Linked DNA regions of Homo sapiens: all the other regions are linked to region 3. Evidence: fine-mapped expression QTL. A gene starts in region 3. Each other region holds a variant in brackets. All regions are shown on one strand. Distances are from middle to middle.

Evidence for each region. PIP is the estimated chance that this variant, and not a neighbour inherited with it, causes the effect.
Region 1: its variant is fine-mapped to the expression of FAIM2 in thyroid (GTEx, PIP above 0.99). The same link has a PIP of 0.9 or more in lung and tibial artery.
Region 2: its variant is fine-mapped to the expression of FAIM2 in subcutaneous fat (FUSION, PIP 0.93).

The regions. Positions count from the first base shown.
Region 1 is chr12:49,872,187-49,874,943 of GRCh38, forward strand. All of the region lies in intron 11 of FAIM2 (Fas apoptotic inhibitory molecule 2), which reads right to left. Among named protein-coding and RNA genes, the nearest start is that of FAIM2, 30 kb to the right of the region's middle. The variant C/T (reference allele first, on the strand shown) is at 1,366.
Region 2 is chr12:49,923,129-49,925,885 of GRCh38, forward strand. It overlaps LINC02395 (long intergenic non-protein coding RNA 2395), which reads left to right. Exons shown (of 6, transcript NR_110048.1): 2 at 1-553; 3 at 654-1,385; 4 at 1,808-1,959; 5 at 2,134-2,260. Among named protein-coding and RNA genes, the nearest start is that of LINC02395, 13 kb to the left of the region's middle. The variant T/C (reference allele first, on the strand shown) is at 1,617.
Region 3 is chr12:49,902,503-49,905,259 of GRCh38, forward strand. It overlaps FAIM2 (Fas apoptotic inhibitory molecule 2), which reads right to left and starts at 1,398. Exons shown (of 12, transcript NM_012306.4): 1 at 1,276-1,398. The coding sequence starts at 1,290.

The DNA.
Region 1 (2,757 bases), 30 kb before region 3:
CTTATAGGTCATTACAAGAAAACCCAGGAAATGCACAATTAGGACTATGAAGGAAGGAGCTACTAATTGGGCCAGAGGAAGGTGACCCAGGAGAGGTGGCATTTCACCTGAGGCTTAAGTAGGAGTTTGCTAGCTGGGAAGGCCTAGGGAAGCCTGGGAGGCCTGACTGGTGTTGTGTGAAGAGTGGGGAACTCGGTGAGGCAGGAACTATGGGAGAAGTGGATAGAGGAGGAAGGGATTGGGGCTTGCCCTTGCAGCTTGCACTCTGCTTGGTAGACAGGGGTCATGCCCAGTTCCCTTTCCTTCACCTCCGCCATGGACTCCTTGTCTCCCAAGACCCAGACTTTAGAGTTGCTATAGACGCAGCCCTGTAGAATCCTAGTCGAATCCCAGCCCTGGTGCAATGCTCCCCCCGGCAGGCCCAAGAGGCCAGGGCTCCAACAGGGAGCAATTCCAGCACATGGGACATTGAGGCAGGGCCACCGTCAAAGGTGAGGAGGTGGGGGCAATTATGAGCACAGGCTTGAAAGTCAGATCCACTTGGACTGCAGGCTCTGCTCTACCACTCATTAGCTGTAGGACCTGGGCAGAGCATTTAATCTCTCTAGGCCTGTGAGTCCCTATGTGTAAAAGGGAGATGAGCGTGCCTGCCTCCTGAGGTTGTTGTGAGAATGAGATAATGCATGCAAGGGGCCTGGCGTGGTGCCTGACACATAGTAAGCACTTAATGAATGCTTGCTATTATATTAATGTGGTTTCATTGTTATTATCTGCAGAAGGAGAGGTGCCCTCTTGAGGACATGCACGTGCTACTGATGAGACTCAGGTGTCTCTTGCATCTCATCAGGGAGGCAGCACTGTTCCTTGGGGAGCTGAGTGGCCTTAACACAGCGAAAATGGGGAGCCATGGCCAGGGCTGAGAGGAGCCCTGCACGGGGTGCGTCAGTCTCCTGAGCTCAGTGGCACTGAGGGAAGGGCACTCCAGACAGGAACAGGAGTTGAAATGCCTGGGTTTGAGACCCGGCTCCATTGCTCAGTAGCCAAGTCATCCACTTGACCTCAGTGTCCTCATCTACAAAGTGGGATAGTAGCAATGCCCACACCACGGTGTGGTTTTGAGGGTAGATTTATGACAGTGTATGTGGCATCCACTATTTGTATTTTTGAGTATGATTTCTCTCCATTCCGCTCTGCTCCTTCTGTGTTTGATTTGGATTCCCAAGCACATTTTCCTTCTGCAGAGAGAATGAGCAAGCAGAAGGCCCAGTGCAAATGCTTTGGGCCACTTGGCAGTCACAGCTGCCAGCATCAGTTCATAAACTGCTGATCTGGCTGTTCAATCAGTAGCTTGCTTGGTTGGTTTCC[C/T]AGAGCCTGGTCACCCCTGGGTGAGCTAATGAAATGGAGTCTCTTAACTTGGAAGGCTTGGATCTGTCCAGCTCTGGGGGTGGCCCTTCTGAGAAGCACCCACGCAGGAGACCCCCTAGAGCAGCCAGCTGGCTTTTCTCTTGGAGAGAAGAGGAATGAAATGATTTCTGCCCCAGCCCTTGGTCCATAGCCACAGATGCTTATCTATGTGGTGTTCTCTGGGATGGCCTGCTTCAAATTTCAACCCCACTGACCAGTATGACCCATCACTGCCACCTGATGCCTGTGAGTCAAACAAAGTCTTTTCATCGATTTATTCCCAACAATATTTGCTGAGCACCTACTATATTCCAGAGAACTTGCCCTCATAGAACTGACAGTCTAATGAGGGCAAAAGACATGATCAGAGATTCTGCATGGCAGTGCATTGATTTACAGGGGAAAGTCATCTGCTGCTATCTCCTTGGAGATGGAAAGCATTGTTAACTAATGTCTTGGTTGAGAGCAGGTATCTTGGTTATAGTTAACATCTTAGTGGGTAGCTAGGATCTTGGCTGAGAGCTAGCAACCGAATTGACTGCAAACCCCTAAAAGGAGGGCAGGTACTTGAGTTAGTGTTCAGCTGAACAGGAGACTCTGCAGGAGGAGCACATGGGATGGGGCAGGAGGCCCCCTGGGACAAGGACGCTATTAACTTACATCTGAAGAGTCCTTCCCCAGACCAACACTTGATCTCATCTCCCTCTCCCCATTTGCCCTGGGAGGTGGGCGTCCTCATGGTCTTACATGAGGAAAGGAGTCTGAGAGCTGAGTGACTTGCTGATGGCTGCTTATCGAGTGCCGTCTCCTATGCTGGTGGAGATAGGGGAGGAGTGGGCTTGCAGGGAGGGAGGGAGCATGTGCAGAGGGCACAGGTGCCAAAGGCAAACTTCCCCGCCTCACTTTACTGGCCAGTGCTAAACCTGGCCGGGGACCCCAGCCACACATTTGGCCTGACCCTGCCATATCTGGGGCCCAGGCTTATGTCCGTTGTCCTCCCTGAATGTGGCCCCAGAGGTGACGCTGAGGGGCTCTGGGCAGTGCATGCCATGGAAAGGCCAGCTCAGAGCCACCCGCAGGCAGGCACTGAATACAAAAAGCTGGGGTTGCAATGTGTTGTATCAGCATAAACAGTGCCACGTGGACTGTGTCTGTCCTGCATAAATGCCAGTGTGAGGGCGTGTGGAGGCAACCCCCAGGCTGTTGTTTACAGCATTGGTTCTAACAGTGAGATGCTGAAACAACCCAAACTCTACCAACACGGGGGTGGTTAAATAAACTCTGGGCAGCAGTGCTGAGGTGGAAACATCTGTGACAGACGCTACTGTGAGAAAAAAGCAAGTTGTGAAAAAT
Region 2 (2,757 bases), 21 kb after region 3:
AAATTCAACACAACACATGTTTACTGAGCACACACCATGCCAGGTGCCATTCTGCAATGTTAGGATACATCAGTGAGCAAAATAACAAAAAGTTCTAGAAGTTAGAGATACTGTGGACAGGGGAAAGCGGTGCTAGGCAAGGTGGTGAGGAGGGCAGGGATGTGGCAGTTCCAGGACTCAGCAGGATGGGCAGGGCTGGCCTTGTTGAGAAGGAGACTGGAAAAAGCAAGGGAGCCAACTGAGTGACATTTGGGGGAAGAGCATTCCAAGCAGTCAACAGCAAGAGCAAAGGCCCTGACAGGGAGCACGCAGGCAGGGTGGCCAGCGTGGCTGGAGCGGAGTGGCCAAGGGCTGGGGTGGGGTGAGGGGCAGGGGCCAGCTGTGGAATGCTGCTCCTACGTGCTAGTGTTCTAAGACTCATTCAGCACTGCCCTGAGTATCTTGACTCTGAACCTGTCCCTGCCCTGACCCCTTCCCCAATCAACTTTAATTTTAGGGACCCACCCATCACAGTAAATGCCAGCACTGCTGATGCCAAAACAATGTTATTTGTGTAAGTATGTGTTTTGTATTTTACCGCCTTAATCCTGTCTTCAACCTCTCCTCTTCTGTCCCACCCAAGTATCTGCCCTTCCTTTCTTGACTCCTTCCAGAGGCCCTCGGAATTTGTGACCTGAAGGAAGAAGAGCAGGGCCGTGGGAAGTATGTAACCAGTGTCATGCCCCTGGTCCCAAGGAAGCAGTGGCTTGGTAAAGAGGGGACCCCCGTCAATAACTCCCTGTAATTACTGGGCACCCACTCTGAGCTCCTCAGTGGAATCCTAAGGTTAATAAGACTGTCTCTAGCCACTGGGGCTCCCAGCCTGGAGTGAGGTAAGAGGAGTGGAGCCGGCTGGGGAGGGAGACGAACACATACACAGAAGATTCAGACACACTTGCAATGTATTGCTGGGGATTCTCCAGCATTGGCATGATGGAGAGGGTGGAGAATCATTTGACCGCCTCCGCCTAGGATTGCAGAGTTCAGCTGGCCATCATCCACCAGCCGGGGGACTGTGCACATCAGTTAACCTCTCCTCTCAGGCCTTGAAAAGCACCAGGCTTAGTACACGTTTGTTAAATGAATGCACTGCAGTTTTTTTGCTTGTTAAAGGCAGGTAATAATAATGATATTGCTGACTAAGGGCTCCCATCCACTCCCAGTGAGCCCGGTGCCCCCCCGGGCCTCCTCAGTGAGCTGAGGAGGCTCAGCAGTGCCTGCACGTCCCCTCGCCACAATGTCATGTGCCACCTCTTCAAAGGAGGGATGTACCAGCTAGTGGACGTGACCTTGACTGCAAAGGGCGGCACGCAGCTGATGTAATGGTCGCTTAAGTGTTCACAAATGTAAGTCATTACTATTATAAGTGGTGGGTGATCAAGTGGCTAGGGGTGCCATCTTTAGCAAATAAAAATATAGGACGCACAGTTAAATTTGAATTTCAGATAAGAATTTCTTAGCATAAGTATGCCCTATGCAATATTTGGGACACATTTATATCAAAAAAAACTCAATATTTATCTGAAATTCAAATGTAACTGTGTGTCCTAGATTTTATCTGGCAGCCTTATTGATGG[T/C]GGCTTATTGACTGGCTGGGAATGACAGGGGTGTAGGCCAGGAAATGGCTCTGTGAAGGCTGCCTAGAACTGAATCGAACATGAGGATGAGTCAGTGTCAAGACTCCCAGTGGGGCCATCGGATCATTACTGCATGATCGTCTTAAGCCTTTGTTAGTGAATCCCTCAGACTCACGCCTTCTTCTCTCCAGGCCTGAACACCCTGTCCTACCTGGTCCTACCTGGATGCTGGCCTCAGTAAGCTCCTGGGCTCATTGAAGATGAACCTAGCAGTAGTATTTACACCACTTGTTGTGTGCCCACTGTGGGCCCGGCGCCATGCCGAGTGCTCTATGGATGTGAGGTAATGAAGCTGCATGGGTGGGATTCAAATGCAGGGTGGTCTGACCCCAGGGCCAAGATCTCTTTCTATTGCACCATGCTATGGCCTGATCAAAGACTCAAGCATCTAGGACAGAGAAAGAGGGAGCAGGAGGGGACACAGAATATCCTAAAGTGGCCTCCTACTGTGTCCCAGGCACTGTGTTAGGATTCACTGAGTTGTCACAAAAATCCTGCAAAGTTCATTCTCGAGGACGCTCTGGAATTTAAATACCTTGCCAAGATCATACAGATTAAGTGGTGGAGCAGGGATTTGAACGGAGGTCTGTCTCACTGCAAAGCCCAAGTAATTTTGCCCCCTTTTGTGTGTATGCATCCTGGGATGATGTGTGCATGCATGTGTGTGTGTATGCGTGTGTGCGTGCATGTGTGCATGTGTGTGTGTATATGCGTGCATGTGTGTGTATGTGTGTGTGCATGTGTGTGCATGCGTGCATGTGTGTGTGTATCGTGCATGTGTGCATATGCGTGCATGTGTGTGTGTGTGTGTGCATGTGTGTGTTCCTACAGTCACATCCCACCTTCGGAGTGGCGCTTTCCGGTCCTACCCAGCCCTTCCTCTCTTGGGATGGGTCTAGGGCCTTGGAGGTGATTAGACTCTAGTGGTGCTGGCACAGGGCTGGCTTTCTCAGCATATTTCAGGGGACTGTGTCCTCTGCCTGCTGTCCCCCAATCAGTAGCTTCTCTTGGGACTTGCCCTCCCCTGCCAGGGCTAAGGTCTGGTTGGTTCCCAGGCCCCTGGGCCTTGGACAGGGGAGCT
Region 3 (2,757 bases):
CATCCCCCAGCAAGCCTGTGCGTGAGCTGGGGACAAGGGGCAGAGGAGGCAGAGGTCCCCCTCACACCAGGAAGGGAACAGCGCCACTAAAGGGCCTGGTGGAGGCAGGGTGGAGGTGGAAGGAGACTCAGCAGAAGGGGTGAGTTCTCCATGTTTACGGAACTGAACACTCCCCAGGCCTCCCACTGCCTCCCACTCCCCAGCCCCCCTCATCACCCGGATCTGAAGGATCATGTCCACCTAAATCGAGTTCAGCCTCCACCCTGCCACTCCGCCCCCCAGAGCCTCCTGGACCCTAATGCCCAGGCCCCCGACACACATACGGCACTCCCAAGTGAGGTGTGACCAATGGCGGGAGGTGGTATCACCCAGTGACATCATTTGAGGCCCAAAGAGCTTGCATACAGGGAGAGGAGGGTCTGAGGGTCCAGGGAAGGATGTCATTGGCTCTGAAGCTCCTCTCAAAGAGAAGAAGGGGGAGTGTAGGGGAGGTCCTTCCCCTGTTTTCTCTGCCCAATCCTTAGCAACCCAAACAGAGGGCCCGAGTACCCTCCCCCTTAGCCCCAGGCCCTAGTGGTTGTATAATTCCACAGGCTATTGATGTTACATAAGCCTACTAGGCCAGCCGAGTCTCTGCCCCAGCCCCTCCCCTACAATTCAGGCCTAAAACTGGAGAAGAGATGCTTCATCCGGACCCATCCATGCCTGGCCAAAACCAAAACAACAATTAGAGCATCTTGATGCAGAGTTGTCATAGCAAGCCCCAAGCACAGGGATGGAGCCAAGACGCCCAGATGTGGAACAATGGCAGGGAGTAGGGTGGGGGTTGTTTCCGTGGAGGGTGGGAAAGATGAGCATAAAGTGGTTGGGTTTGGGACTGGAGGGTTGGGCCAGAGGGGGTTGCCCGATAGGCACTGCCCCTCAGGGCTCACCCTGGCACACACATACCCATGCACACACATACAGTCACACCAGACGCCCGGGCTGACTCCTCACGGGGGGCCTGGGTATCTGTGAGGAGCCTTGTAATGCTGTAATGCCAAAGCAGGGGTGGCAGGGTGACAGGGGAGGAGAGGCGCGCCTGCGGGCAGGAAGAGGCCTCGGTCCATTCCTTGACACCGGCCTTTCGGTCCTCTGACTTCAGCAAGGACCACGGAGGACCTTCAAACTAGGGCCAGGGGAGGATGCTTTCGTGGTCCAGAGGGCTTGCTGAGGATGACAGGGAGCCGGGAGCCGGAGGATGGAGGATGGTGCAGGCTGGGGAGATGCCGGTACCTTTCCCTGGGTCATGGTGCCGTCTCTCGGGGAAGGGGTCCCTGAGGCCCGGGTGGCCGCTTGGGTAACCGCAGCCTGCCTGCGTCTCTTCCTTCCTCCGCGTGGGTTCTAGCAACATCCACTGCAGCCGGGCCAGGCGAGCCGGCGCGTACCATCGGCGCGGGGGGAGGAGAGGGCCGGGCCTGGGAAGATGCTGCGGAGGACGCTGCGGATTCGCGAGCCCGGGGTAAGGCGGCGGCGCACCGCCCCCTCCCGCCGCTTCCCCCCCACCCCGCCCCCCACCGCCGCCCTTAGCCCTCCCCCGGGATGAGAGAGAGTCGCGCTGCGGAGCAACCCCAGTGGATGGGTCCGCGGGGGCTGAGCGGGCGGAGGACGCGGGAACTCCGTGACACCGACCAGCTGACGCTGCCCGCGTGAAACCAGAGCCGGGCATCAGGGCCTCATCTCCACTGTCTCTGCACCTCTCTGCAGCTCCAGCTGCGCCTCTGCCTTTTCCTCCTCCCTCTTTGGATGCGGCCCTGATTTCTGTCTCCATCTCCACCTCCCCTCTCATCATCTATTTCATCATCCCTGGTAGAGGGGAAGGTCTGGAAGTCTCGCCTGTGCTGCCCGCTTCTAACAGGGCCCCTGGGCCCTGCGCTCCTGTGGGCCTGGGGCAAGCCAATAGCCACCTATCCTTGCTCCTTTTTCTCGCCTGTGAAATGCACACAGTAGGTCCCTCCCTGCCTTGGTTCACAGAGACATGGGGTGGGAGGACACCTCTTCTGTTTCTTTCAGCCCTGCTGGGACATTTCACGGGGTCTTTCTGGAGACACCGCTAGTTCTGTCTCAAAGCCTCTACAACCCCTGCCAGAGCTCTCTTCCTGCCTCCACGCTTAGCTTCCATCACCCCGTCTCCATCTTCCCCCCTTTTCCATTCCTCCCATGCCAGAGCTCGTTCTCCCCGCTTCCCCAGACGTGTCACTGGGACCCAGCCATCATCAGGCCCCGTTTTCTGTAGCTGCTGCAGTGTCACTATGGGGTTTGCAATCTCAAGAGCTGGGATCAAGTCCCAATTTAGTCACCCACTGGCCGCGTGGCCTTGGCAAGGCCCTTAACCTCTCTGAGCTGCAGCTCCTACGAAAAAGAGGCTTAGAACAGAGCTCTGTCCATCCTAGATTGACTGTCAGACGCACAGGTTATGGCCGTAAAAGCACATAAAAGACCAAGAAGTGCTGGAAGTATGTGAGGTATTATTAACTGAGGAGTCTCCTACCAGAATGTCCTGGGCTGCCCCAGAGCGAGCACCCACAAATCTGCCTAAAAGAAGTATCTGAACCTGCTAGGATGGGACGAGAAACTAAGACCTGGGACAGGTGGGGGTGGCCACTTACCTTCTGCTTCCCTCTCACTGCCCAGGGACCCACCTAAAGTCCCTGAGAAAGCAGGGCCCAGGTAGGCAGACAAATTATCAAAGTCTTTTTTTTTTTTTTTTTTTTTTTT